Linked DNA regions of Homo sapiens: region 2 is linked to region 1. Evidence: fine-mapped expression QTL. A gene starts in region 1. The other region holds a variant in brackets. All regions are shown on one strand. Distances are from middle to middle.

Region 1 (12,244 bases):
TGTTAGTAACAATTTAATTGTAGCTATCACTGATGAGTTAATATTAGCCATCATTTATAGAGCAAATGCTAGATGCCAAGTCATCTGCTGAGCGTCTTAGATGCATTATCTAAACCTTACATTCCTAAGAGTTGGATTCATTATTTATTAATTATACTTTAAGTTCTGGGGTACATATGCAGAATGTGCAGGTTTGTTACACAGGTACACACGTGCCATGGTAGTTTGCTGCACCCATCAACCTGTCACCTACATTAAGTATTTCTCCTAATGCTATCCCTCCCCTAGCCATCCCCCAACAGGCCCCACTGTGTGATGTTCCCCTCCCTGTGTCCATGTCTTCTCATTGTTCAACTCCCACTTATCAGTGAGAACATGTGGTGGTTGGTTTTCTGTTCTTGTGTTAGTTTGCTGAGAATGATGGTTTCTATGTCCATGTTCCTGCAAAGGACATGAACTCATCCTTTTTTATGGCTGCATAGTATTCCATGGTGTATATGTGCCACATTTTCTTTATCCAGTCTATCATTGATGGACATTTGGGTTGGTTCCAAATTTTTGCTATTGTGAATAGTGCCACAATAAACATACATGTGCATGTGTCTTTATAGTAGAATAATTTATAATCCTTTGGCCCAGTAATGGGATTGCTGGGTCAAATGGTATTTTGAGGAATTGCCATACTGTCTTCCACAATGGTTGAACTACTTTACACTCCCACCAACAGTGTAAAACCGTTCCTGTTTCTCCACATCCTCTCCAGCATCTGTTGTTTCCTGACTTAATGACTACCATTCTAGCTGGCAGGAGATGGTATCTCATTGTGGTTTTGATTTGCATTTCTCTAATGACTAGTGATAATGAGCATTTTTCAAATGTTTGTTGGCTGCATAAATATCTTCTTTTGAAAAGCATCTGTCCATATCCTTTGCCCACTTTTTGACGGGGGTTTTTTTTCTTGAAAATTTGTTTAAGTTCTTTGTAGATTTTAGATATTAGCCCTTTGTCAGATGGATAGATGGCAAAAATTTTCTCCCATTCTGTAGGTTGTCTGTTCACTCTGATGATAGTTTCTTTTGCTGTGCAGAAGCTCTTTAGTTTAATTAGATCCCATTTGTCAATTTTGGCTTTTGTTGCCATTGCTTTTGGTGTTTTAGACGTGAAGTCTTTGCCCATGCCTATGTCCTGAATGGTGTTGCCTAGGTTTTTTCCTAGGATTTTTATGATTTTAGTCCTTAACGTTTGAGTCTTTAATCCACCTTGAGTTGATTTTTGTATAAGGTGTAAGGAAAGGGTCCAGTTTCAGTTTTCTTCATATGACTAGTCAGTTTTACCTACATCATTTATTAAATAGAGAATCGTTTCCCCATTGCTTGTTTGTGTCAGGTTTGTCAAAGATCAGATGGTTGTAGATGTGTGGTGTCACTTCTGAGGCCTCTGTTCTGTTCCATTGGTCTATATATCTGTTTTGGCACCAGTACCATGCTGTTTTGGTTACTGTAGCCTTGTAGTATAGTTTGAAGTCAGGTAGCATGATGGCTCCAACTTTGTTCTTTTTGCTTAGGCTTGTCTTGGCTCTGCAGGCTCTTTTTTGGTTACATATGAACTTTAAAGTAGTTTTTTCCAATTCTGTGAAGAAAGTCAATGGTAGCGTAATGGGGATAGCATTGAATCTATAAATTACTTTGGGCAGTATGGCCATTTTCATGATATTGATTTTTCCTGTCCATGAGCATGGAATGTTTTTCCATTTGTTTGTGTCCTCTCTTGCTTCCTTGAACAGTGGTTTGTAGTTCTCCTTGAAGAGGTCCTTCACATCCCTTGTAAATTGGATTCCTAGGTATTTTATTCTCTTTGAAGCAATTGTGAATAGGAGTTCACTCATGGTTTGGCTGTTTGTCTGTTATTTGTGTATAGGAATGCTCGTGATTTCTGCACATCGATTTTGTACCCTAAGACTTTGCTAAAGTTGCTTATCAGCTTAAGGAGATTTTGGGCTGAGACAGTGGGGTTTTCTAAATATACTATCATGTCATCTGCAAACAGACACAATTTGACTTCCTCTCTTCCTATTTGAATACCCTTTATTTCTTTCTCTTGCCTGATTGCCCTGGCCAGAACTTCCAACACTATGTTGAATAGGAGTGGTAAGAGAGGGTATCCTTGTCTTGTGCCAGTTTTCAAAGGGAATGCTTCCAGTTTTTGCCCATTCAGTATGATATTGGCTGTGGATTTGTCATAAATAGCTCTTATTATTTTGAGATATGTTCCATTGATACCTAGTTTATTGAGAGTTTTTAGCATGAAGGGGTGTTGAATTTTGTCAAAGGCCTTTTCTGCATCTGTTGAGATAATCATGTGGTTTTTGTCTTTGGTTCTGTTTACATGGTGGATTACGTTTAGTGATTTCCATATGTTGAACCAGCCTTGCATCCCAGGTATAAAGCCAACTTGATCATCGTGGTGGATAAGCTTTTTGATGTGCTGCTGGATTTGGTTTTCCTGCATTATATTAAGGATTTTCACCATTCATGTTCATCAAGGATATTGGCCTGAAATTTTCTTTTTTTGTTGCTTCTCTGCCAGGTTTTGGTATCAGGATGATGCTGGCCTCATAAAATGACTTAGGGAGGATTCCCTCTTTTTCTATTGTTTGGAATAGTTTCAGAAGGAATGGTACCAGCTCCTCTTTGAACCTCTGCAAGAATTCAGCTGTGAATCCGTCTGGTCCTGGACTTTTTTTGATTGGTAGGCTATTAAATTACTGCCTCAATTTCAGAACTTGTTATTGGTCTATTCAGGGGTTTGACTTCTTCCTGGTTTAGTCTTGGGAGGGTGTATGTCCAGGAACTTATCCATTTCTTCTAGATTTTCTAGTTTATTTGCATAGAGGTGTTTATAGTATTCTCTGTTGGTAGTGTGTATTTCTGGGAGATCAATCAGTGGTGATATCCCCTATATCATTTTTTATTGCATCTATTTGATTCTTCTCTCTTGTCTTATTAGTCGGGCTAGCGGTCTATCTATCTATTTTGTTTATCTTTTCAAAACACCATCTCCTGGATGCATTGAGTTTTTGAAGGGTTTTTCATGTCTCTATGTCCTTCACTTCTGCGCTGATCTTAGTTATTTCTTGTCTTCTGCTGGCTTTTGAATTTGTTTGCTGTTGCTTCTCTAGTTCTTTTAATTTTGGTGTTAGGGTGTCAACTTTAGATCTTTCTTGCTTTCTCTTGTGGGCATTTAGTGCTATAAATTTCACTCTACACACTGCTTTAAATGTGTCCTAGAGATTCTGGTACGTTGTGTCTTCATTCTCATTGGTTTCAAAGAACATCTTTATTTCTGCCTTCATTTTGTTATTTACCCAGTAGTCACTCAGGAGCATGTTGTTCAGTTTCCATGTAGTTGTGTGGTTTTGAGTGAGTTTCTTAATCCTGAGTTCTAATTTGATTGCATTGTGGTTTGAAAGACTGTTTGTTATGATTTCTGTTCTTTCTTTTACATTTGCTGAGGAGTGCTTTACTTCCAACTATGTGGTCAATTTTGGAATAAGTAAGTGCTATGTGGTGCTGAGAATAATGTATATTCTGCTGATTTGGGGTGGACAGTTCTGTAGATGTCTATTAGGTCTTCTTGGTCCAGAGCTGAGTTCAAGTCCTGAATATCCTTGTTAATTTTCTCTCTTGTTGATCTATCTAATGTTGAAAGTGGGGTGTTAAAGTCTCCCATTATTATTGTGTGGGAGTCTAAGTCTCTTTGTAGGTCTCTAAGGACTTGCTTTATGATTCTGGGTACTGCTGTATTGGGTGCATATATATTTAGGATAGTTAGCTCTTCTTGTTGCATTGATCCCTTTACCATTATGTAATGGCCTTCTTTGTTGGTTTAAAGTCTGTTTTATCAGAGATTAGGATTTCAACTCCTGCTTTTTTTTTTTTGTGCTTTCCATTTGCTTGGTAAATATTCCTCCATCCCTTTATTTTGAGTCTATGTGTGTCTTTGCATGTGAGATGGGTCTCCTGAATACAGCACAGAGATGGGTCTTGACTCTTTATCCAATTTGCCAGTCTGTGTCTTTTCACTGGGGGCATTTAGCCCATTTACACTTAAGGTTAATATTGTTATGTGTGAATTTGATCCTGTCTATTTTGCCCATTAGTTGATGCAGTTTCTTCATAGTGTCGATGGTTTTTGCAGTGGCAAAACTGCACGTTGAGTGCTTCCTTCAGGAGTTCTTGTAAGGTGGGCCTGGTGGTGACAAAATCTCTCAGCATTTGCTTGTCTATAAAGGATTTTATTTCTCCTTCACTTCTGAAGCTTACTTTGGCTAGATACAAAATTCGGCGGTGGAAATTCTTTTCTTTAAGAATGTTAAATATTGGCCCTGACTGTCTTTTGGCTTGTAGGGTTTCTGCAGAGAGATCCACTGTTAGCCTGATGGGCTTCCCTTTGTGAGTAACCCAACCTTTCTCTCTGGCTGCCCTTAGCATTTTTTCTTTTATTTCAACCTTGGTGAATCTGACAATTATGTGTCTTGGAGTTGCTCTTCTCGAGGAGTATCTTTGTGGCATTCTCTGTATTTCCTGAATTTGAATGTTGGCCTGACCTGCTAGGTTGGGGAAGTTCTCCTGGATAATATCCTGCAGAGTGTTTTCCAACTTGGTTCCATTCTCCCCGTTCCTTTCAGGTACACCAATCAAATGTAGATTTGGTCTTTTCACAGTCCCATATTTCTTGGAGGCTTTATTAGTTCCTTTTTATTCTTTTTTCTCTAATCTTGTCTTCTCTCTTTATTTCATTAACTTGATCTTTAATCTCTGATATCCTTTCTTCCACTTGATTGATTTGGCTATTGATACTTAGTTGGCTATTGATACTTAGGTATGCTTCATGAAGTCCACGTGCTGTGTTTTTCAGCTACATCAGGCCATTTATGTTCTTCTCTAAACTGGTTATTCTAGTTAGCAATTTGTCTAACCTTTTCTCAAGGTTCTTAGCTTCCTTGCAGTGGGTTAGAACATGCTCCTTTAGCTCAGAGGAGTTTGTTATTACCCACCTTCTGAAGCCTACTTCTGTCAGTTTCTCCACCCAGTTTTATTCCCTTGCTGGCAAGGAGTTGTGATCCTTTGGCAGAGAAGAGGCATTCTGATTTTTGTAATTTTCAGCCTTCTCGCTCTGGTTTCTCCCCATCTTTGTGGATTTATGTTGGTGACCTTCAGATGGGGTCTTTCAGTGGACCTGCTATTCCTTTCTGTTTGTTAGTTTTCCTTCTAATAATCAGGCCCCTCTGCTGCAGGTCTGCTGGAGTTTCCTGGAGGTCCACTCCAGACCCCATTTGCCTGGGTATTACCAGCAGAAGCTGCAGAACAGCAAAGATTGCTGCCTGTTCTTTCCTTTGGAAGCTTCATCCTGGAGGGGCATCTGCCAGATGCCAGCCAGAGCTTTCCTGTATGACGTGTCTGTCAGCCCCTACTGGGAGGTGTCTTCCAGTCAAGGATACAGGGGCATCAGGTACCCAACTTCAGGATGCAGTCTGACCCTTAGCAGAGCTTGAACGCTGTGCTGGGAGGTCCGATGCTCTCTTCAGAGCCATCAGGCAGGGACATTTAAGTCTGCTGAAGCGTGCCCATGGCTGCCGCTTCCCCCAGGTTTTCTGTCCCAGGGAGAAGGGGGTTTTAATCTATAGGTTGACTGGGGCTGCTGCCTTCTTTTCAAAGATGCCCTAACCCAGAGAGGAGAAATCTGGCAGTCTGGCCACAGTAGCCTTGCTGAGCTGAGTGGGCTCCACCCAGTTTGAACTTCCAGGTGGCTTTGTTTACACTGGGGGGGGGGTAAAACCACCTTCTCAAGCCTCAGCAATGGCAGATGCCCCTCCCCAAGCTCGACTGTCCCAGGTTGATCTCAGGCTGCTGCTGTGCTGGCAGTGAGAATTTCAAGCCAGTGGATCTTAGTTTGCTGGCTCTGTGGGAGTAGGACCTGCCTAGCCAGACCACTTGGCTCCCTGGCTTCAGCACCCTTTCCAGGGGAGTGAATGGTTGTCATGCTGGTGTTCCAGGTGCCACTAGGGTATGAACAAAAAAACAGCTCTTGCAGCTAGTTCAGTGTCTGCCCAGATGGCTTCCCAGTTTTGTACTTGAAACCCAGGGTCCTGATGGGGTAGGCACCAGAGGGGGTCTCCTGGTCTGCGGGTTGTGAATGCCATGGGAAAAGCACAGTATCTGGGCCGGAGTGCACGGTTCCTCATGCTCAATGCCCCACCCTGTTTTGGTTTGCCCTCTGTGGGCTGCACCCAGTGTCTAACCAGTCCCAGTGAGATGAACTGGGTACCTCAGTTGGAAATGCAGAAATCACCTGCCTTCTGCATCAATCTTGCTGGGAGCTGCAGACTGGAGCTGTTCCTCTTAGGCCATCTTGCCAGCCGAGACCTTATCTTTCTTTTATAGATGCAATGTCTGAAGTAAATTGCAGCACCTGCACACCACATCAAGTTGGTTGACTTGAAAGTCTTTTCCTCTTACCAGTATTTCTCCACGTGAGAGAGATGTGCCCTCTTTTAAGGGAACAACATTTTGCGTGGATCCCCTTAAATAGTTTTAAGACATCTGAAAACATAAAACTAGATATTAATTTATTATACTTATGCCCTTAAATAGTTGTAGCACCTGAGTCTGTCAGGATAGGCAGTAATAACAAAAGTCCTCAAATCTTAGTGGCTGCAAACATGTATTGTTTCTTGGAATAGCAGGGAGCTCATCTGACCCAGCAGCCACCAATACTGCACCAGTCAAGTCCTGGCAAGAGACAAAGAGGACACCTAAACTAAAGACTTTGAGGAGAAGTTTATTATTTATTTGTACTACTTACCAGGCAAAGAGGGGGGTTAGGCAAAGTGGTAAGAAGTTATAGTTTAGTACCAGCAGGCTAGAAATGCCTAGCCACCCTTACCCTGAAGGGACAAGGTGGGGAAGCAGTTACCAGCACCTGGACAGTGACTGACTGACAGAGGGTTGCAGCCAACCCAAATGGACCTGGCACACGGAGCCAAGAGACTTATGCCTACTCTTTTGACCCCATTCGCCTCCTGCCCTGCAGTTTCCTGCCAGAACGCCCCATTGGCCAAATCCAACCGGAAGTTAGAATGGAAGGGAGACCATGGACCCATTTTCTCCAGACCTGCTTCCAGCGAAGGCACAGAGGAGTTGGGACGCACCTGGAGCAGCACACAGGGAGATACTTAGTGCAATCTCAAACGTTGCTAGAGGCAAAAGCGGTACTGGAGAGACTCACACTGCAGCTAAATGCTATGAAGTGTCACTTCGCACTCACAACTCACTGGCCAGAACTAATCATGTGTTCTGCACAACAGAAGGGGGCCCCACCGTGGCATTTTACCACATGTCCAGAAAGAGAAGAGCAGGCTGTCTGTGGCAGCCACAAACCCAAAACAAATTTAAAGATTAAATACAAAGAAGATGACAGAATCCAAACAATTCAAATTAACAAAATTAACTCAATATTACAGTCGGTATTGCTTTGCTAAAACTCAGTCAACCACCCAGGACATGAGCACATCCAACAGGTCCTCTGAGTTTGGCTTGCCTCTGCTTCCACCTGCCTTGTGAAAGTTCAATTCTCCCACGAACACACCAGCATCTATGAAGTCATTTGGTTTTCACTTGGCAGAAGTGTGCCATTTACATTGCAATTTCCCCTCTGTTCTTTTCTATCTAGGCTGCGTCAATGATTGTAGTGCTAATTGTTACAGACATGACCACAATGCCAAGGCGAATGGGGACAATGAAATCCATGGCTGGTTTTAAGGTAGTTATCTATATGGTCGGGAAAAATGCTTATATTAATTTTTTTGGATTGCTATTGAATCGAAAACAAAGTTAAGCAATTCTCCTGGAGAAGCCAGAGATCCCTTAGAAACAGCTTCTACTAGTCCTTTCTTTTTCCTCCTTCTCACCCCAGCACAGGAAAGGCGGAGGTGCTAATACCCTAGTCCCCCTGGCAGGTGTATCTCTTGGTCCTTCCACCCTTATTCCTCTGCTCTCTCACCTTCTCCTCTTTGCACTGCATCAGTGCCCTCCTTAACTCAAGAGCCCTGGCTTTTCTGTATCCTGAGCTGCTTCCTGACTCAGGCTGATCCAGAAGGTTCTGTCTCCATCCTTGCCCATCAGCCCTGATGCCTGGGATACTCTCTTCATTCTTTCCAACCCCAACTATATTAAGTAATCCCTGAGTCACACATCTGAACATGTTTCTGCCATATAACGACAAGCTGAGGTTTCCTGAGAACATTTTCTTACTCACTACAACTCTCTACTGATATCACCCTCTCACATCTGCATGACCAGAGCAGTCCAGGTCTCCAAGCCCTGTATAGTACATACCTACCTTAGAGGCCTCTGGATCGGCTTCAAATGATCTCTTCACATTCCAAAATTGAATGCAACATTTTATGTGTAGGTATTCTAGTACATCTTGTTTGTGGGAGGAGAGGTTGTCCAGAATTTCATCAGATTCTCAAAGAGGTCTGGGACCTAATGAATGCTGATGTCTTCTGTTTTACACTGTTCATTTAAAACTTCATGATACTCATTTCCATTTTACAGAAAACTTCTCTATACTTCTGTTAAAACAAAATAATGTAAGATCCTCCATTTATATATGTAAAATATATATATATATATATATATAGTAGAATGCAGACACACTATATCAAATACTGTCTGTGGTCTACATATAGCCAAGTGTCCCTTGTCCTTCCTGTAAGAACCTGATTTTGAACGGGTTTTCATTCTCCAGTGCATCAGATACTTTGGCTTCCTTCTTCTTCCAGTGGTTAATCATGATTCAGCTAAGCTATATGAGTATTCTATTGTTGCACAACAAATTACCACCAACTTAGTAGCTTAAAATAACACATGTGTGATGTCACAATTTCTGTCAGTCAGGAGTCTAGCCATGGCTTACCTGGGCCCTCTTCTCTGGGTTCCACAAGGCTGGACTCAAGAGTCAGCCTGCCTGTGTTCTCATCTGGGAGTCTGGAGAAGAATCAGCTTCCAACCTTACTCAGGTTGTTGGAAGAATTTATTTTCTTAGGTTGTGGAATATAGGGCTTTTATTCCTTGCTGGCTGTTGGCTTGAGGCTGCCCACTTAAAGAAAACCTTTCCACCTGGCTTAATTCATCAAGCCAGCAAGCAAAAAATCCTAGGGAGACAGAGCCTTATATAAAGTGACGTAATAAAATCACAAACGTGACATTCTAACAAAACATACTCAAGGATGTGACTCACACACCTTTGCCACCTTCCATTGGTTAGAAAAAGTCTCCTATCTCACACTCAGGGCAGGAGGGATTATACAAAGGCGCGGATAGTGCGGATACCAGAAGACAGGCAATATTGGGGGGCCACCTTAGGGTTTGTGCACAACATAAACCAGTCTGATGATTTTCATTCTCTTGACAGTGACTCATTTATTCATAAGCTTGGGACTCACACATCACCAATGAGAACTGAGAGGATGTCTTACGTTTCCTTCCATCTACAGGGCAGGTGCAGAGGATCCAGCATGTTATTCTGAAACCCCAGAAGACGCTGCAGCTACCAAATAGAAGGAGCCTGGATCCCTGAATGTCTTCATGGAACAGAACATTCTCCTCACTCCAGTCTGTTTGAACCAGAATATGACCTGAGCAAGAAATAAGCCTTAATTATATTTGACCATAGAATTCTGGTGATATTTCTATGGCTGTAAGTCCATGTTGATTAATACAAAGGGATGCTGTAAAGCCTCTTCTATTAAAAAAAGTTGCCCAAGGAGTGAAAGGAGAGATATTTTCTGTAATTAAGATTTTCATAATACATAGAACAGGCTATAGCACCTGGCAATCAATCATATGGGGTACAACAGAAAGAGGAAACATTCCTGCTATTAAATTAACCAAACTGGAGTTCTTGTTATATAATATAGTAAAATTTCCTCAATCTTTCAGCCACCTTTAGTTCTGTAATCTATTATTTCTGGGTAAAAGCATACCATTTGATACACAATCCAAACCCAATTCTTAATTAATAACGTGTATCCACTGTATCTTACCACATCCCAAATCATCTAATACTTAACCACCTAGTTTCTATGTTCCACTTACATCAAACATATTCATGTTTGGAAAATTGAGCCAGCATCTACTGCCTTATCAGCTGATGCATAACAATTTACTTTGTCTGTGCTCTATAATAATGCAAGTCTGCTTGGAAAGATAACACGTTAAAGGGTTATCAGACCCTAACACCTTCGTATAGATGAATTTATCAGATCCTCTGCTAAACCACTTTCGAATCCTTGGCCAGTTCTCTACATTTCATGAAGAGTTAGCATAGCCAGTCCAGGAGATATTATCTTCAGGATGTGGTCAGTTGTGGAAAGGAAGATAGCTCTGAGGATCTCTTTCCAGGGAAAAGAAAGACATGAGGATTGCTCCAAAGATCCTCTTTCTGGGGGAAAACGCACATACTACAGAAAGGCTACAGAAAAAAAAGCACTCCCTCAGCAACATATTCACAATCTATTTTGTTGGAATTACAGGCCAATCCTTTTCAGACAGTTGAGTCCAGAGAGGACTGGGAGACTGCCTGACCCCATGGGGTGCTTGACAAGGTCAGATTCCAGGGCCTGGTAGGCTGTTAAAACCAAAGGGGGCCAGTGCTCATGGACAGTGAGTTAAGAGGCTCCTGACACTGGGGGTCCTTTCAGAGCACATACAGAAGGAGGAGTGTCCTTCTGTTACACAACCTGAATTACTGGAGAAGGGCCCGCTGGTGTCGTTCTCCTCAATACAATGCACCTCCTACAATGCACCTCCACTTCTGGGAGAGGGGAAGGGGGAAAAAGAGACAGAGAAGGAGGGAGAGAGAGAGAGAAAGAGAGCGCTGTCTCCCTCCCTTCCTTCTTCCTTCCCTTCTCTCTTTCCCTTCCTCTTATCTCTCTGTGGATCTCTTTCAAGTATTCCTAGAAGAATCTGGAGCTAAAATGAGCCTGCGTCTGAATTTTACTCCTGGCTCTGCAACTGATAAGCTATGTAATCAAGTCCCTTCCCTGCTTCTTTCTTTCTCACACACACACACACACACACACACACAGTCTCTCATCAAATGCTTTGTGGGTTCTTACTCTGACAAGCCAGGCATTGTGCTAGTTACAGGAGATAATCTGAAAGAAAATAGCTCCTTCTTATAAAATGATGATAGACCAGGTGATCTCACAGGTATATGTTGATGATGGCTAGTTTAGTCTTGCTAGCTCTGCTCATGCACCTCCCTCCTTCAATCATGTACCTCCCTCCTTCAAATCAATATCCTCACCTGCTTTCCCAAAGCCCTCTTGCTATTCCTTCTCCCTCTGAGGTACCATTTTTAGCCTAGTATCAAAAGGCACCACAGCTCTTTCCGTCCCCCACGCCACCCATCCTCTTCCCCAGCATCAACACCAAGCTGCCCTGAATGCTATGCTTTCACTCTTTCCATCAGCATGCAGTTACTAATCCCTTAATGTGACCGGAGCAGAAGTCTAAATAACTGCTCCATAATCCCCTAGTATTTGAGCATCCAAAATAACATTTGCATTTTCATCAGGGTCTTAAATGGTCTGGTGGCTTTCTTTTTATAAATTAGTAATTTAAGTATTTATTTTTTAAAAATTCAAACACAGATATAGATATGTTTATGTAGGACTACATAAAGATTTATAATTTTATAGAATTACATAAACGTGATTATATTATATATAGCTTTTCATTTTCTTTCTCTCTCTCTTTCTTTTCTTTGTATCTTCTTCCTCTCTCCAACCTCCTCCATACTAATAATTCTCAGCCACAAATCCTCCACAAAACCATGGAACCCATGTTAACCTTTTATGTATCCTTCCATATTTTTCTCTATTTGTCTAGACTCACACCAGTGTCTAATGACATATGTGAAGGGATGTTCTTGGAGTACTCTTGTTCGTGGCAAAGAATGATTGAATGAATTCTGGTACAATAATATATTTCAGTTAGGCTAGGCTGCTTGTTGATATGGAATAAACAACTCCAAAAGCTTAATAACTTAAAACAATAACAATGGATTGATTGCTCATACTATATGTCCAAGTCAAGCCAGTAAAGGACTCTATTCCTCAGGGTCATTCAGGGACCCAGGCTGATGGAACAACTATTACCTTAAATATTTCCAGTTG
Region 2 (17,276 bases), 390 kb after region 1:
TAGTAAACCCAATATTAGATTCTAGCCTTGTTTGTTTGCTTTGAGGTTTTATTATTTTTCTGCAATCTGGACTTCATCCTGAATCCTTCCGATTTCCTCCAATATTTGACTATGACTCTTGACAATAATATTTCCAATATTCTTCCATATTTATGACTTGTAATCACTAAAATTAAAACTGCTTTTTTCCTGAAGCCCTGTAAGCTGAAGCTGGACAAATTGACATAAACTTCAGAGAAATCACCACAACAGTTTATGTATGAATAATTTTTGTGACATTCAAATTGCAAACCATTTGGAATGGTTTGCTAGAAAGTCTGTTAGATTGTCAATGCCTATCCTCACTCCAATTGAAGGTGCTTCAAGTTCACCATCTAGAAATCTTGACTGGCTGCCTCCCAGACTCAGAAACTGACTTCATCATTTGTTCCAACAATTAATCTTTGTTTTATTCTTTTATTTTCACAGAAATTAAACTCCCCTCATTAAAGACCTGATGGCTCACATTATCCAGGAGTCCTCCACTAGTAAGTCCCAACAGATGATTCAGCTGCTCCTTAATGAACACAAGGCAAATAAACAAGAAAACTGGCATATTATTCAAAGGAAAAAAGAATGTATTTTCTTTCTTTGAACACGAAGCGGGGCTGAAAAATTCTTTAGCTGGCTAAACTTAAGTCAAGATTCTGAACCTTCTCCTAGGCCCTTCTGTGAACTTCCTTGTCAAATTCCATTTTAGTAGAGAACACTGCCATGTCCATTCAGCAAGAACTCTCCATCCTCAAGATCTCGTTATGCTCAATATCTAATCACGTGTGGGTTTTCTTTTTTTTTTTGGTTTTGTTTTGTTTGTTTTGAGACAGAGTCTCACTCTGTTGCCAGGCTAGAGTACAGAGGCACAATATTGGCTCACTGCAATCTCCGCCTCCTGGGTTCAAGCCATTCTCCTGCCTCAGCCTCCCAAGTAGCTGGGATTACAGGCACGTGCCACCACACCCAGCTAATTTTTGTATTTTTAGCAGAGATGGGGTTTCACCATGTTGGCCAGGATGGTCTCGATCTCCTGACCTTGTGATCCGCCCACCTCGGCCTCCCAAAGTGCTGGGATTACAGATGTGAGCCACCACACCCGGCCCTGATCAGATTTTCATCTTCTACCATTCCTTAGGTGAAGTCTGATCACCTGGGCTGTCTTTAACCAGAATCATGTGAGATTGGTTAATACAGAATTGTCTTTACCCCTTGTCTTAGTTTGTTTTCCCCTGCTATAACAATACAACAGACTGGGTCATTTTTAAGAAATAGAAATGTATTTTGCTCAGCTTTCTGAAAGCTGAGAAGTGAAGAACATGGTGCAGCATTTGGCGAGGCTCATCTCATAGCAGAAAGTAGAATTGAGAGTGTGACAGACAGAAAATCAAGTACAAACTTATCCTTTTATCAGTTGCTCACTCTCATGGTACTGACATTAATCCATTCATGAAGGTGGAGCCCTTATTACCTAATCACCTTTTAAAGGTCTCATCTCTTAATATTATCACAATAGCAATTAAACTTCAACAGAAGTTTTGGGAGGGACATTCAAACTATAGCGCCCCTGATGCTTACTCTTAACAATTTTCCATCCACTAAGCCCCGCACTGCTCCTTGGCTGTACATTTCCACTTGTTCATGCTGTATTCAGAGTTGAGCCCAGTCTCTCTCCCCCACTATAAGACCCCATTGCAGTGGTTATATAGCTATTGTGATTGTCCTGAATAAAGTCTTCCTTACTGTATTAGTCCGTTCTCACACTGCTAAACTGAACTGCCCAAGACTGGGTACTTTATAAAGGAAATAGGTTTAACTTACTCACAGTTCTGCTTGGCTGGGGAGGCCTCAAGAAGCTTGCACATGAGGTGGAAGGTGAAGGGAAGCAATGCACCTTCTCTGCAAGTCGGCAGGAAGAAAAAGAACACAAGACGCACTACCACACACTTATAAAACCATCAGATCTCGTGAGAACTCACTCACTATCATGAGAATAGAAGGGAAAATCACCCTTCACGATTCTATTACCTTCAGTTGGTCTCTCCTTTGGCACGTGGGGACTATGGGAATTATAATTAAAGATGAGATTTTGGGTATGGACACAGCCAAACCATATAACTTACCATGCTTTAACAAGTACAGTATCATCAAATAATTTTTTCTTTAACACCAGAAGTAAGAGAGAAACAGATGTCCCGGTGCCAAAAGGCACTGACACTAACATGTAAATGACTGCTCCCAATCTCAGAAAATTAAGGACAGGATGACTCAAAGAGATGACAAGACTTCAAAGAATCAGCTGGAGGACCCAAAAAATAACCCTGCCAGCATCCCAGTTTTGCCTGGGTGACTCTGTTAACAGGTATCTACCTGATCCACACAAGGCTTGGCTGCAGGTATAATTTGAATAGATTGGCAACCACACCCCTCCTCTCCCAGCCCCTCCTCTCACATCCAGCCCTAGCACGTGGACTAGTCTTCCCAGCATGGAGTTTCTGGAGGGCACACATCCAAGCTAACAAGCAACAATACACTCAGAGTGCTTGATATTCCACGATGATCAAATTGGCTTTCCTGGAGAACCCAGAGATTAATGAAGCCTCCCACTACCTCCCCGTCACCCCCTACCTAGGAAAAGGCTTGCATGATTGTTCACTTCAGGGGAGGAAAATGAGAGAGATGTAACATCACACCAGGCTAAAACACTCATCGTAAATCATTTCTCCCAGACGTGACTCACTAGGGCTGTACATGGTTTCTTCATCTGAGAGGACAAGAAGACCCAGCTGAACTATTTCAGCACACACGAATGGCCTGCTCACTGGACTGCTCCCAAATCTCTGGCTTGTAGATTTTCAAGCGCAGCCTTTACCCTCAGGAGTAACATATTACCTAGCATGCTGGACCTGTTTTTGTTTTTCCTCCAAAAGCGTGTAAGACAATCTCTGCAAAGTGCCATGGTCTGTTAGCAGTGCCAGAACCTCTAGATTTTTCTTTGTACCTGTTCACAATTGTTATAGTTTATGCATTGAAAAGCATTTCCCTTTTAATTGATACCAAGGGGCAGCTCGCTCCCTTAAAGTGATTCAGGATTGGCACTGCTCGTTACAGGAGAAAATAGAAGGTGGGGCTGAAATGTAGCTAATTATGTCAGGCTCTAGAAAGAGAGCAGGCGAAAGCTTTTCATCTGGGACCTTTGCAGATTGCTAAATTAACAGTCTTGAGCTGATAAACCGGTTGGAGCCAGCCAATGGAGCACACCGGGATATAAAGGCCAACGCTGCTGGGGAGGTTTCTACTATCATCCGTGAGCTCTGTGAGGTGGTGAGGATTGGGCATGGGAGAGAGGGAGACGTGGGAGAAGTAAGTGTCCCTCAACCTCCCTGCCTACTTCTCCATAGTCTCATGATTTGAAGTCCTGGGAACATAGGTGAACCTGGAAGGCACTATGCTAAGTAAAATAAGCCAGTCACAGAAGGACAAATACTGTAGGATTTCACTCACATGAGGTCTCTAAAATAGTCAAACTTATAGGAACAGAGAGTAGAATGAGGGCTGCCAGAGGCTACAGGGAAAGGGAATGGGGCATGGCTATTCAATGTTATAAAGCTTCAATAATGCAAGATGAGTAAGTTCTAGAGATCTGCTGTAAAACATCATGCCTCAAGTTAATAATACTGTGCTGTAAACGTCATAATTTGCTAAAAGCGTAGACTTTATGTTAAATGTTCTTGCTACACGAAATTAAAAATATCCTGGCAGGGGCCGGGCGCGGTGGCTCATGCCTGTAATCCAGCACTTTGGGAGGCTGAGGCGGGCAGATCACGAGGTCAGGAGATCGAGACCATCCTGGCTAACACGGTGAAACCCCGTCTCTACTAAAAATACAAAAAATTAGCTGGGCGTGGTGGCAGGCGCCTGTAGTCCCAGCTACTCGGGAGGCTGAGGCAGGAGAATGGTGTAAACCCAGGAGGCGGAGCTTGCAGTGAGCCAAGATCACACCACTGCACTCCAGCCTGGGCGACAGAGCAAGACTCCATCTCAAAAAAAATAAATAAATAAAATAAAAAATAAAAATATCCTGGCAGGAAAAAACAAGGGGGTCAGCAAACTATGGCCAACTCTGGCCTACTGCCTGTTTTTACGTTTTTTTGTGGTTAGGAGTCAAAAAAAAAGAAGAAATATTGTTTTGCGACATGTGAAAATTATGTTAAATTTATATGTTAATGCTCTAAGTAAAGTTTTATTGGAACATGTATTATTTACACATTGTCTATAGCTGCTGTTCTACTACAGCAGCAGAATGGTGTAGCTGTAACAGAGACTGGCCCATAAAACCTAAAATATTTGCTATCTGGCCTTTAGAAAAAATGTTTGCTGACGCTATTTGCTGACCCCATTTGATGAGAGTTGGACTGTAGCTGTGAGGTATAGAAACTGCTTTGAACTTTGGGTGAAGAGATCTAGGTTTGATGCCTATTCCCAACTTTGGGGAAAAATTATATACCTCTCTGATGACAAGTATCTCCATTTGTAAAATGGAAACCATATATATTCCATAGATGTTGTTTTGAAATTTAAATAAGACGAGATACATGGGAGGAAAAAATTGGCACGATGCTTGGTATAGAGTAGATGTTCAATAAATAATAACAAAATGAATAAAAGAATACATTCACATATAACCTTTATCCTCTGCATTTTAAAGCTCCCATTTTGGTTCTAACTCTTCAAGAAACTTCCCCATCTTCCCAGCTAAACTTGTCCAAAATGGCCTCCTCCTCCTCTGAATGTCTGCAGTGTTTGCCAGACTTCTCTCTCTTTTCTACCTCGACAAGACCTCTTGGTGTTAGTTTCTATGGGTGTCTAGTTCATCTTCCCCTCCGGATTGTCAGGTCAGATGACACCATCACTGTTGTGCAGAATGTAGTTGAGAAGATGTGTACATGCTGTCTGTAAATGAGGAATGTCAAATACGGAGCTCAGACAACAACTTACAGAATTTCATAGAGGACTGAGGTGCTCAGTGAAGGCTCCACAGAGGAGGTGGGCCTGGAGCCGAGCTTGAAAGTTCACAGTGTTGCTTGTGCAGAATCTCCCCCAGAAAGAGACAAGTGGCACAAGCCGTGACAATAATACGTGAGCCAAGTATGGAGACTTATTTCAGGAATGCAGCAATTGGATTAGGGTGAAAGATGAAGACTGGTGTCAAATGAGTCAAGATACTTGGGGCTGCAAATGGCAGACAGCCATGTTCAAACTTGACAAAAACCTGAGAAAAATGTATCATCTCGCTTGACTAGAAGTTGAGAAAATAGAACTCTAGGCACAGTAGAACTTAGGTTCAGTTTCTCTGCAGTTCTCTTGACTCCATCCATCTTTGGGTAGACCTTGTTCTGAGACCTCGTTTCCCACGTGGCGTCAAGATGGCTGCCTGCAGCCCCTGCAGCCAATGTGCTCCCTTCCTCATACCCAGAAAGGCAGGGAGAGGGAAGACAGTCTCTCTCCTACCTGCGAAAGAAACGCCCTTTTCTTCTCTCTCACTGAGCCAGCTAGAGTCACATGATCACTCCCGGACCAATAGCAGCCTGACTTCCTGAACCGGTCTCCAGCAAGAGCCTGTAGTGGAATCACCATGACTGGCTTAGACTAATCAAGATCCACCCCAGCAAGAGCTTCACCCAATCACATAGGCTGCAAGGAAAAGGGATGGATTCCGGAATAAATTTGGGGTACTGTGAAGAAAAAGGAAGGAGGGCAAGATGCTGAGCAAGCTACTATCTGTCCTCTACAGCTAATAAATCACTACGAATGGCCTATTGAATGGGAATATCAAAATCAGAACTGCAGATGGTATCCTGAAGAAAAAAGTGGGTTTCTATGATTGCTCCCTGCCACAAGCAACTCAGACGTGGGTTTGTAATAGCCTGAACAAACCTCATAAAGTCTGGGCCAAAACATTTAGGAGAAGGAGGAGAGAGAAATAAGTTGTTATAACCCAGATTTCACTTTGACTTTCTGTGAAGCAGAGACAAAATACAGATAGATTAGATAGATAGATAGATAGATAGATAGATAGATAGATAGATAGATAAATATATATATACACACACACACAAACACACACACACACACGCACACACACACACACAGGGATTCACTCCACGACCTTTTATTGGCCCAAACGATAGCTTCAGTCTTTTAATTACTACTGCCCAGGAAAATAATTCCTCTCCTTGGCTTCCTCTCTACTGCAGCTTACCCAGAATAGCACATGCTGTATATTTTTTCAGAAATGACAGAAATATTCGTGGTGCTTGGGTTAAGTAATTAAGATTTGCTGTGGGAACACCAAGGAACCCCATTAAAATGGCTGTGTAGCTTGGCAAATTAACTACTTAGTGTTTAATTACTAAAAATTACTATCAATTACTAAATGTTACTGCAAATTACTTGCAGAATAGACACATTTGTTTGTGGGTATTAATGATTTCAATTACTCCTCATAGGTAATTGGTTTCTGTGCACACACGGGTATCAACTGTCGAATAGGAGCTCAGCAATAAACATTGTTCCTCTTCTTTTAGCTCATAGCTGAAAAATTAAACACTGGGCCCATAGTTCCTCTAGGTTTCTGTGCTACTTAACATTGCTTGCCTGAGACTCCTAGGGCTGGAAAGGACCTCAGAGACCTCTTCCAGGGAGCAGAGGAGGAAGCAGGACACAGAGGTTAGTGGTTACTCAGAATCACACAGCCAACACTACAGTATAGATCAACATCAAACACTTTCTGCACAGTGAAAGGATCTAGTCACAAAAGACCAAAACTGCCTGATCCAATTTATACAAAATGTCCAGAATTGGCAAATCTATAGAAATAGAAAGTAAATCAGTTGCTGCCTGAATCTGGAAGGCGGGGGAAAGAGCTGGGGAGTGAGAAGGGACAATTAGGGGAGTGAGGAGTGACTGCTAATGGGCACAAGATTTATTTGGGGGGTAACAAAGATGTTTTAAAATTAGATTATGGAGATGTTTGTATAACTCTATAAATACTCAAAACCATTGAATTATACACCTTAATTGGGTGATTATTGTGGTATATAAGTTATATCTCAATACAGCTGTTAAAACAAGTATTTTTAATCATATAATTAGAGAATGATAGGGCTGGATCAAAGAGCTGATGCTCCTGACTCCCGCTTTATCGTTCTTTCCACTGGACCATCCTGCTTCAACAGATGCCAAGCTTGCTGGAATTTGTAACTCACTGAAGAAGATGGCCATTAAGACTCATTGTTGAAATCGTGGTCTTATTTATGAAGGGCTCACTTCCAGCTATTTGTGGATTATTAAGAGAGTATAAACTATGTTCATTAAAGTAGCATAAAATGCAACCATAAAATGCATATAATAACTGAATACCAAATAAAATGATGTCTTAGCTTAGAATATATTCATCATGCATAAAACAACACAGAACTTGTGACAAGGGCTTGCCAGTATGTAGTTTATTTGGGATGGCAATCCTATGGAATGGGTTGGAGGGAATGGGAAGAGTAAAAAGGGAAAGGAGAAAAAGTCAATCCCAGTGTGTATGACTGAGTTGATTCAGTAGTCGCAAATAACTGAGACTCAATCCCACCAGGCCCTTGAAGAGTTGTGTACCCTGCTTCAGAATTGTCCACAATAAGGAGAGGGAAATATTCATGCATTGGCTCCTTATCCACCGGTAAAGAATTTGCCCAGACATTGTTTAACTCCCTAGCTCTTCCACATGGGTATTTGAACCAGCACAACTGAGCAATATCCCACAGCATCCTCCAAGGTAGACACAGAGAAGCTCAAGAGCAGAAAGTAAGAGAAAAGTCACAAGGCTCTAGCCACTCTGATCAGACTACCTGTGCATGCAACCTGCTGTTGCAGTAATTGCCAAAGTCACAGGTAAGTAAGTCGGGAAGGTGTAAGATGGAGGGTCCAAGATGTCCCACATATTATAAGAGAAACAGAAGCTCATCAACCACTCTAAGAAGAATCAAACTGAGGAAAAATTGAATTGGCAATGTGGGACGAGAAACTCCAGTCTAGAATAGAGTTCACCTATGCCTGGAAGATTGGAGAGCTGAATGGAATTCTAGCCTTCCAGCACTTTGGAGGAATATTACATTGGCCAAAAAGTCCTGCCTATACTTCTTCAAATAACCACACTCAAAAATAATACTTCTGGCCAGGCAGTGTCTCATGCCTGTAATCCCAACACTTTGGGAGGCTGAGGTGGGAGGGTTGCTTGAGTCCAGGAGTTCAAAACCAGCCTGGGTAACATGACAAAACTCTGTCTCTACAAAACATACAAGAAAAAAAAATGAGCCGGGCATGGTGGTGCACACCTTTAGTTCCAGCTACTCAGGAGGCTTAGCTGGGAGGATCACCTGAACCCAGGAGGTTGAGGCTGCAGTGAGTCATGATCATGCCACTGCACTTCAGCCTGGGTGACAGAGTGAGACCTTGTCTCAAAAAAAAAAAAAAAAAAAAAAAAAGAATACTTCTATACCCCTCCTACTCCCCAGCATCCTCCAGTATTCTTAGCTATTATCTGCCCAATCTTATTCCCTGGAAATTTTTCTTTAGATCGGTCAGCTCAATACCAGTTTGTATTAGTCAGGTTCTCTAGAGGGACAAAATTAATAGGATACACACACACACACACACACACACACACACACACACACACACATATTATATATATATTTAAAGAATAGTTTATTAAGTATTAACTTACATGATCACAAGGTCCCACAATTGGCTGTCTACAAGCTGAGGAGTAAGAAGAGCCAGTCTGAGTCCCAAAACTGGAAAACTTGGAGTCTAGTGTTCGAGGGCAGGAAGCACCCAGCATAGGAGAAAGATGTAGGCTGGGAGGCTAGGCCAGTCTCTCCTTTTCACGTTTTTTCTGCCTGCTTTATATTCGCTGGCAGCTGATGAGATTGTGTCCACTAGATTAAGGGTGAATCTGCCCTCCGCAGCCTACCG[G/A]CTTAAATATTAATCTCTTTTGGCAACACCCTCACAGACACACAAAGGATCAATACTTTGTATCCTTCAATCCAATCAAGTTGACACTCAGTATTAACCATTACACAGTTCAATATCTTCGCTCAACTCCACACATGTCTTCCACACATTGGAGAAAGGACATCCCATCAATAAATGGCGATGGGACAAGTGGATATACACCTGCAGAAGATTAAAACTAGACCCCTGGCTGGGTGCAGTGGCTCACACCTGTAATCCCAGCACTTTGAGAGACTTTGAGCACTTTGAGGTGGGTGGATCACTTGAGGTCAGGAGTTCAAGACCAGTCTGGCCAACATGGTGAAACTCTGTCTCTACTAAAAATACAAAAAAAAAAAAAAAAATAGGCTGGCATGGTGGTGCACACCCGCAGTCCCAGCTACTCGGGAGGCTGAGGCAGGAGAATCACTTGAACCCTGGGGGCGGAGGTTGCGGTGAGCCAAGATCACACCACTGCACTCCAGCCTCGGTAACAGAGTAAGACTCTGTCATAAATAAATAAATAAATAAATAAAACTATACCCCTATCTCTCACCATATACAAAAATCAACTCTAAATAGATTGAAGACTTAAATGCAAGACCTGAAACTATAAAACTACTACAAGAAAACATTGGAGAAACACTGCATAAAATTGGACTGAGTGCAGATTTTTTCAATAAGACCTCAAAACCACAGGCAACAAAAGCAAAAATAGGCAAATAGGATTACATCAAACTAAAAAGCTTCTGTACTGGAAAAGAAACAATAGAGTGGAGAAACAACCTACGGGATGAGAGAAAAACTGTGTATCTAACAAGTAGTTAATATCCAGACTATATAAGGAACTCAAACAACTCAATAGCAAACAACAATAATCATCAGATTTAAAAAGGGGGAAAAGCCTGAATAGACATTTCTCAAAAAAAGACATACAAATTGCCAACAGATACATGAAAAAGTCCTCAACATCATTAATTATCAGGGAAATGCAATTCAAAACCACAATGAGATATCACTCTGCCCCAGTTAGGATGGCTATCATCGAAAAAACAAAATGTGACAAGAGCTGGTGAGGATGTGGAGAAATGGGAACTATTAGGTACTATTGGTAGGAATGTAAAAAAACTATAGCCTTTATAGTATAGTATGGAAGTACCTCAAAAAATTAAAATGTAAACTATTAAATGATTCAGCAATTTCATTGCTAGGTGTATATCCAAAAGAAATGAAATCAGTATATTGAAGAGATATGTGCACTCCTGTGTTTACTGCAGTGCTATTTACAATAGCCAAGATATGAAATCAACCTAAATGCCCATCTACAGAAGAATGAATACAGAAAATTTTATATATATATATATATACACACACACACACACACACACACACACACAATAGAACACTATTCAGCCATAAAACAGAATGAAATCCTGTCATTTGCGACAGGGTGAATGAACCTGGAGGACATTATGTTAAGTGAAATATGCCAGGCACAGAAAGACCAACACTGTATGTCTAGCTCATATGTGGAATCTTAAAACGTTGATTTCATAGAATTAGAGAGTAAATAGTGATTACCAGAGGCTGGGAGGCAGAGAGGAGAGTAATGCAAGAGGTTGGTCGATAGTTACAAAGTTACAGTTAGACTGAAAGAATATGTTCTTGTGTTCTATTGCACAGTAGGGTGATTATAGCAAATAACAATGTAGTGTATATTTTGGGAAAACTAGAAGAGTTTGAATGTTGTCACTGCAAAGAAATGATAAATGTTTAAAGTGATGGATCTGCTAATTACCCTGATTTGATCATTATACAATGTATACATGTATTGAAACATCACACTGTACCCCATAAATATGCATGCTTATTATATATCAATTACAGATTTAAAATTAATTTTTAAAGAGAAACTTAAAATGTTAAGTGGTGTATGAACCCAGAAAATCTCACTGCAGAACCTACACTCTTTTCCACTTGTACCAAGCTGCCTCATAGATGTCAGGGGGAGAACAACTGAATGTTTGAGCAAAGTTTAATGCAGAGGCTGTTTTACAAAGTTAGGAGAAGCATTAAGAGAAGTAGTGAAATATGTCAGGACAACAAGGGCTGTTCCCATCCCTTGGCTCTCAAGGCAAAGGAGGGAATAGCCGCCAGAAAGACACTAGAAAGTTATAGGTGACCGCAGCCCTGGTGAAGCTGTGGCCTTACACAGAGAGATCAACCTCTGCCAATCTGCAGGACAGAAGGAAAGAACCAAAGGAATAATTATTCCAACCTCTCTCTCTGATTTCCTGTTGGTGCCTCCCATCGGCTAAACCCAGGTAGAAACCAGAGGGCAAAAGGGCAAATTGAGACAGTCCCCAGAGGTCAATGTCCCTGGACTGAGAGCAAAGATTGGGGTAGAGAAGGATGTGGAAGACAAACAGAGGAGATGCAGCATGAAGTCTGAGCTAAGATCTAAGCACTGCTCTGATTTTAGCTCTCCAGTGTTTTTCCTCGAGGGGCTCAGAGTTGCTTTATACTTAGGCAAAGGGGACAGCTGTCCCAATCCGGTATCTAACTAAGAGGAGCCATACCTAAAAGAGGAGCAGGTGCAGTATCTGCCAAGGCCATCCCTAAATGACATCATCGAATGTTCTCATCTTCAGCACAATCAACCCAGCATGGCAATAAGGTCCCAGTTGCTTCCCCTAACACAGACATGCCTTTGAAGATCTGCCTCACTCTAATAATCGTAAATGACCCTGGGGAACAATCCCTTTTGAAAATGAGGCTGACCAAAACCTGTATTGGGTATATATAACAGTTCTGAAATTCCTCTCTAGTAAGCACAAAAGAGGACTTTCAGATCTTGTCTATACATACTAATATAAGCAGTTCCAATAAAGGTATTGGAATACAGGTCTTTAGGTCTTGACTATGCAGAACTAATTTAAATGGTTCCAAACCAAAAAGACTTGCAAGAAACTCTTCTAAAATACATCCTATAATTATATACATTTTTCCTATTCTAACTTAAATGAGTCAAAATGTGGAAGAAGTGAAAGAGTGACCTGACCATCGTGGTTTTATCTGAGCCCCAGAAACACCGAACAGGTCCCTAGCAAGCCAAGGCCTCACATGTGTCCGTTCCATGTTGACTGAGTTTGCACTCTAAACCAGGCACTGTGCTAAGCACGTAACTAGCAGTCACTGCTATAGCCCTCACAGCAACCCTAAGAATAAAGTACTATTTTGAATCCCATTTCATGAACAAGGAAACGGAGGCATGTGGTGATCAAGTCAGAAGTGATTCAGTGATCTTGTTCACTAGACTAAGATCACAGGAGTACACAAATGAAAAATAAGACAATGAATTTTAGCTGGGAACAGATGACACTGACAAAACAATCTGTGGGAAGTGAATGGCAATAAGAATTAAGGTTCCAATGGTTCAGAAAGTAAGTTATTGGGGTGGGTGGGGGCACTCAGGGGAGTTTTGCCCAGGGCGGTAGAAACCAGGCTGAGGACCAGGAGAAAGACAAGGAGGGGCAGTGGGTGGGGAAGACAGTGAAGGTGGAGTCTTGGAGAGGGGGTGGCCCTGGTGGACTTGACCAGGACAGTGAGGAGCTGGGCTCCTGCAGAAGTGTCAGTGGTGAGGCGGCAGATCAGAGAGGGGATCTTGACTGCCCTTTCCATCCTCTCCCAATTGCTGGCTCCCTGCTGTGGGTCTGTCTCTCTGCCTCACACATCAATGAGCCAGCCCTGATGCTCACTTCCCTGCCTCTCGGAGCCCTGTCCAGTCTCAGACTACACAATTCCCACTCCCTGCAGGCTCTGTCTGACGGGCTGTAAATAGCCTGTTTGAAAAGTAATTGCATGTTTGGGGCTGGTGCTTGCCATGTGTAATTGCTCATTCTTTCTCCAGCCACTTCCTCTCTTCCTACTTCCCAGGTTTGTTTCCCAGGATAGGAGCCTTCCAGGCAAGTGGCTGGAGGAGATAACGAGGCCCTCTGAGCCTCACGATTCAACCAGACTTTGCTGCCCAGGGAGCCACCCTGCACCGTCTACCTGCCCTAAGCAACGGGATAGAAAAGGGAGAATGGACTCATTCCTTTCTGAAAGATTCTCTGGGCATCATGGACTGGTACAAAGACATCTCCCCAGATCTAGGGCACATGGACTCTCTTGCCCTGGCACTTGGGCAGCACAGGCCAGCCCTCTAATGATGTCAGTCTTCTTGTCTGCTATACTTCTGATAGCCCCCTTCTTCCCTAAATCCCTCGGATCTCTAATACTCAGGATTAATTTACTGAACATCTACTATATGCCAGTCTGTCCTGAGAGCTTGTTTTGGTATATTTCCCCTCAAAGTTAGGCACAGCACAGAGGCACACAGTGACATAGCCCCACACCCTATACCTTACACCGCTGCCTCCATTGGCCTGGTCCTGCACAGAGATAGCTGAGCAGAAGTGAAGCAAGTCCTGCGGGTACCCAGCCACTTCCCATATGCACTGGGTCACACTCTAGCCATTGGCGCCCTCAAACAATGACTGAGAGGAGTTGATAAACAAATATCCATCCTCTCTTACCTCTCAGACAAGATAATCTTGAAGTGCTTATTCAACACTGGCTTCTAGATTGCTGTATTAGTCCATTCTCACATTGCTATAAAGAAATAGCTGAGACTGGACAATTTATAAAGAAAAGAGGTAAAATTGGCTCACAGTTCTGCAGGCTGTACAGGAAGCATAGCAGCTTGTTTCTGGGGAGGCCTCAGCAAACTTCCAATCATAGTGGAAGGCAAAAGGGGAGCAGGCATGTCTTACAAGGCCAGAGCAGGAGCAACAGGGTGGGAAGGAGAAGGGAGGTCCCATACACTTTTATATAACTCATTCACTGTCACAAGAATAGCACCAAGGGAGAAATGTGCCCCCATGATCGAATCACCTCCTGCCAGGCCCCACCTCCAATGCTGGGGATTACAATTTGACATGAGATTTGGGCAGGGAAACAGATCGCCCAGAAAAATTATGTTCCAGATGCTTACAGTGCAAACTTGCTTGAAAACACAGTCTTTATTGACCTTTTCCCATTCACTGTCTACTTACCGGCATAGCTGACATCTCCTTCAAATAAAATATTGGTACTTATATCCTTGTCTCAGGGTCTTCTTGGAAAATCTTAAGTCAGTCGGTACCAGAAGTAGTATTAAGAAGGAGACTCTCAGAATGGAATTCTAAAATTAGATCACTTGCTGGCCATGTGACAAGGGTTCCATTACTGATAATAAATAGAGTAAAATAAGACACAACACGGTTGTATAAAATTTATCATTTTATGAAAGTGTTTAAAGAAGGCCTTATCTCCTGCAGATGAAGAGAGGACTGCCAAAAATCAGGCCCACAGTCTGATTTCCAAACGTCACAGAATTTTCAATATGGCTGATTTCACAGCTCTGGTAATTTTCCTATGCTAGAGTCAGAAAAGGGATGCCTGGAATAGGGTCATCTGGGTGGCTGTACTGAAACCACATTAATTGGACTCGATGAGTGAAAAATAGCAAGATCTCTGGATACCTTGTAAAGACACATGTGCACCAGTTATTGGGAAGTAAACCTGCAAAGATCAAGGAGCCGACTCCATCCCTGAAGATTTTAGAGGCCCAGTGGGATGCAGTCTGTCAAGCCATTCTCTCCAAGGTAAAGGATAAATTATTGTATATTGCATCTCTTACCACCTGGAAAAAGATTCAGCACTTGTGGGCTTCTTTGGATTTTTGATGGCAGCACATGTCCCTCTTAGGAATACTGCTATGACTCCTGATGACTTAGAATTGTCAGTTTTGAGTGGTGAGCAGGGCCAAACAGCATTTTGCAATAGGTTATGGTACAAGTGGCCCTAATGATTTGCCCATATAATTCATCAGCTTCCATGATTTTTAGACATATTTGTGGCAGATAAGAGTGCTTAATGGCATTTCTAGAAAGCCTGAATTGTAGAGTTGAGGTGCAGAATCCTAGGGCTTTGGAGCAAGACATCTACAGGAGAACATTACTCACTATTGAAAAGGCAGCTCCTGGCATGCTACTAAGTCATCTGGCTATGCAATATCCATGACTATATTACTGTAGGTGCCAAAGATGAGCTGGATATTTTCAGACACATTAAGTTATAAGGTTGAAGGGGCACAGCAGCAATCCATTCTACAATGAAGGGTGGTCTGGACCCCCATGCCAGCTACCTCTGTGCACTGAACCTCTTTTTTGGCTCATATTTCCGGCCTCCTCAGCTGACTAGAGTGTACAACACCTAGGCTTGGTTCATGATAGGGTCAGCTTGCTATTTTTCCAAGAGTGTAAAAGAGACTGCTGTAATAACACAGCCCCCTCAGGAATAGTTCTGAAAGATGGTGGTACATGGAAAACCCTCCAGGGGGCAGAACTTTGAGCAGTAAATATCTGAATGGAGAGTGAAGCAGCCTGAGGAAAAGATATCTGTCTCCCCTTAGGCAGTGGCGAATGGATTGAATCATTGCTTGGGGGCCTTGGAGGAGTCACTTTGAACAATCCGAAACAAAGAGGCCTGGGAATAAAGCAGGGTGGACTCATGGGAGTGGGCACAGAGTGTGTGGAGAAGAGAGCATTCACCTGAGAAGATGCTCTCAACCAGCAAGTGGACATGAGGACACATCCCATGGAAGTGCTTCAGCCCCCATCCTCAGCCATTTCTTGCACAATGGGCCTGTGCATGGAGCAGTCACAGAGCAGAGGTAGAGGATATGCATGCATGGGCTGAGCAGCATGGGTTCCGTGTCAGCAAGCCTGATCGTTGCCACTCTTCTGAAAGTCTGACCTGCCAACAATAGGAATTATTGATACTGTGCCCCCGACATGGTGCCGTCTCTCAAGCAGATCACATGGTCCCTTAGTGATAAGATGTTCACACTGGATCCCTATTTCCTGGAGAAGACAGTGATTCCAGATGGATGTATTTCAGATGTATTTGGGGTGTTTCATTGCCTTTCCCACCCACAGTGCATTTGTCAGCTCCACAATCTGAGGCCTTACAGAGCATCCCGTGTTTCATAACAAACCTCTAAACATCCCCTCCGATGAAGGAGTCCACTTTGTGACAAAATTAAGTATGACAATGTGCACAAAACCTCTAAGCCTGCAGAGGCAGATGTGACATTTAAAATCTATCTACAGATAGTCTTATAAGGTAACACGCTCCCATGCTGAACCCCAGACTCCACAGCTGGCATTGCCCATGCTGCAGCCATTGGACAGTGGTCACCCACAGCTGCACCCAGAATCCAGAGGTCTCCACAACCATCACTGCTGCCAGGGAACTCCTCACCATTGCTGCTTCTTTACCACGCGAGCAGCTGATTCCAATCTGGGGCAGGTGTGTTTGACCACAGCTGCACTGGATGCGGTGTCCTACCTGTGAAAGAGGCTAGAAAATGCCCAAATGCCCTTTCTGTGAAGGATGCTGGGAAGTACATTTTCAGATTCTGTAGCAGACAGAGGGCTCTAACTCTCACCAAGACTCAATGAGATGTAAAATTCCTGAACATAGAAGGCGGGATTTGATGCTGGGGAGCCAAAATAAACGGCAATGTCCAACATGTACCTTCTTTTAAACTCAAAACAGTTGCATGTATTAGCTGTGATAAACCCATCTCAGCCTCAGTTTCCTCCTCTGTAAAGCTGGGGTGTATGACTGGCTCGCGGCCCCCCAGGAAAGTGGTAGAGAAGGATTCACACTCAGTGTTCCAATTGCTACTCCTATGTTCATCCCATGACATCGTTTGCCTTTCTCTTGAGGTTCTTTCCCCTCTATCCCTCTTGAAAGCATTGTGTCTGGCCCTGAGGGTACGTTCCCTGTCTACGATCCCCTCTATTTTTCCAGAATGTGTGACTCAAAAGAACTCCACAGTGAAAACCAATCATAGATTCCCCTCTCTCCCTAGTGGTTGCAGGAGAGCTTCTCGGGGTCTCTGAGGAGCTGAACCCACAGACAGCTCCTGAGGCTTCTTTATGGGCTGCTCTGCTTTCCTGCTGCTTTGGGAGGCTGTTTCCTCACCACTCATTATGGTCTCTGCAGTATGTAAGTTCTGTAGCCAAGGTTCATACAACTGGGAGTGTATTTATGGCAGTCCATACACTTTCTTAGGAAAATATTGATTTTCTAACAACAGAGTGACTGCA

Alleles and levels. Positions count from the first base shown, and alleles are read on the strand shown. Sizes are in standard deviations (SD) of each study's normalised expression.
As copies of A replace G in region 2, the expression in liver of the gene that starts at base 8,843 in region 1 goes down (large effect, 1.0 SD a copy in GTEx).

Evidence for each region.
Region 2: its variant is fine-mapped to the expression of LINC03023 in liver (GTEx, PIP above 0.99).

The regions. Positions count from the first base shown.
Region 1 is chr8:20,950,232-20,962,475 of GRCh38, reverse strand. LINC03023 (long intergenic non-protein coding RNA 3023) reads right to left here and starts at 8,843. Exons shown (of 5, transcript NR_130774.1): 1 at 8,783-8,843; 2 at 8,401-8,635; 3 at 6,642-6,791. It overlaps LOC105379316 (a long non-coding RNA gene), which reads left to right. Exons shown (of 4, transcript XR_007060845.1): 3 at 7,732-7,821; 4 at 9,560-9,831.
Region 2 is chr8:20,562,564-20,579,839 of GRCh38, reverse strand. No RefSeq gene overlaps it. Among named protein-coding and RNA genes, the nearest start is that of SNORD3F, 44 kb to the left of the region's middle. The variant G/A (reference allele first, on the strand shown) is at 9,058.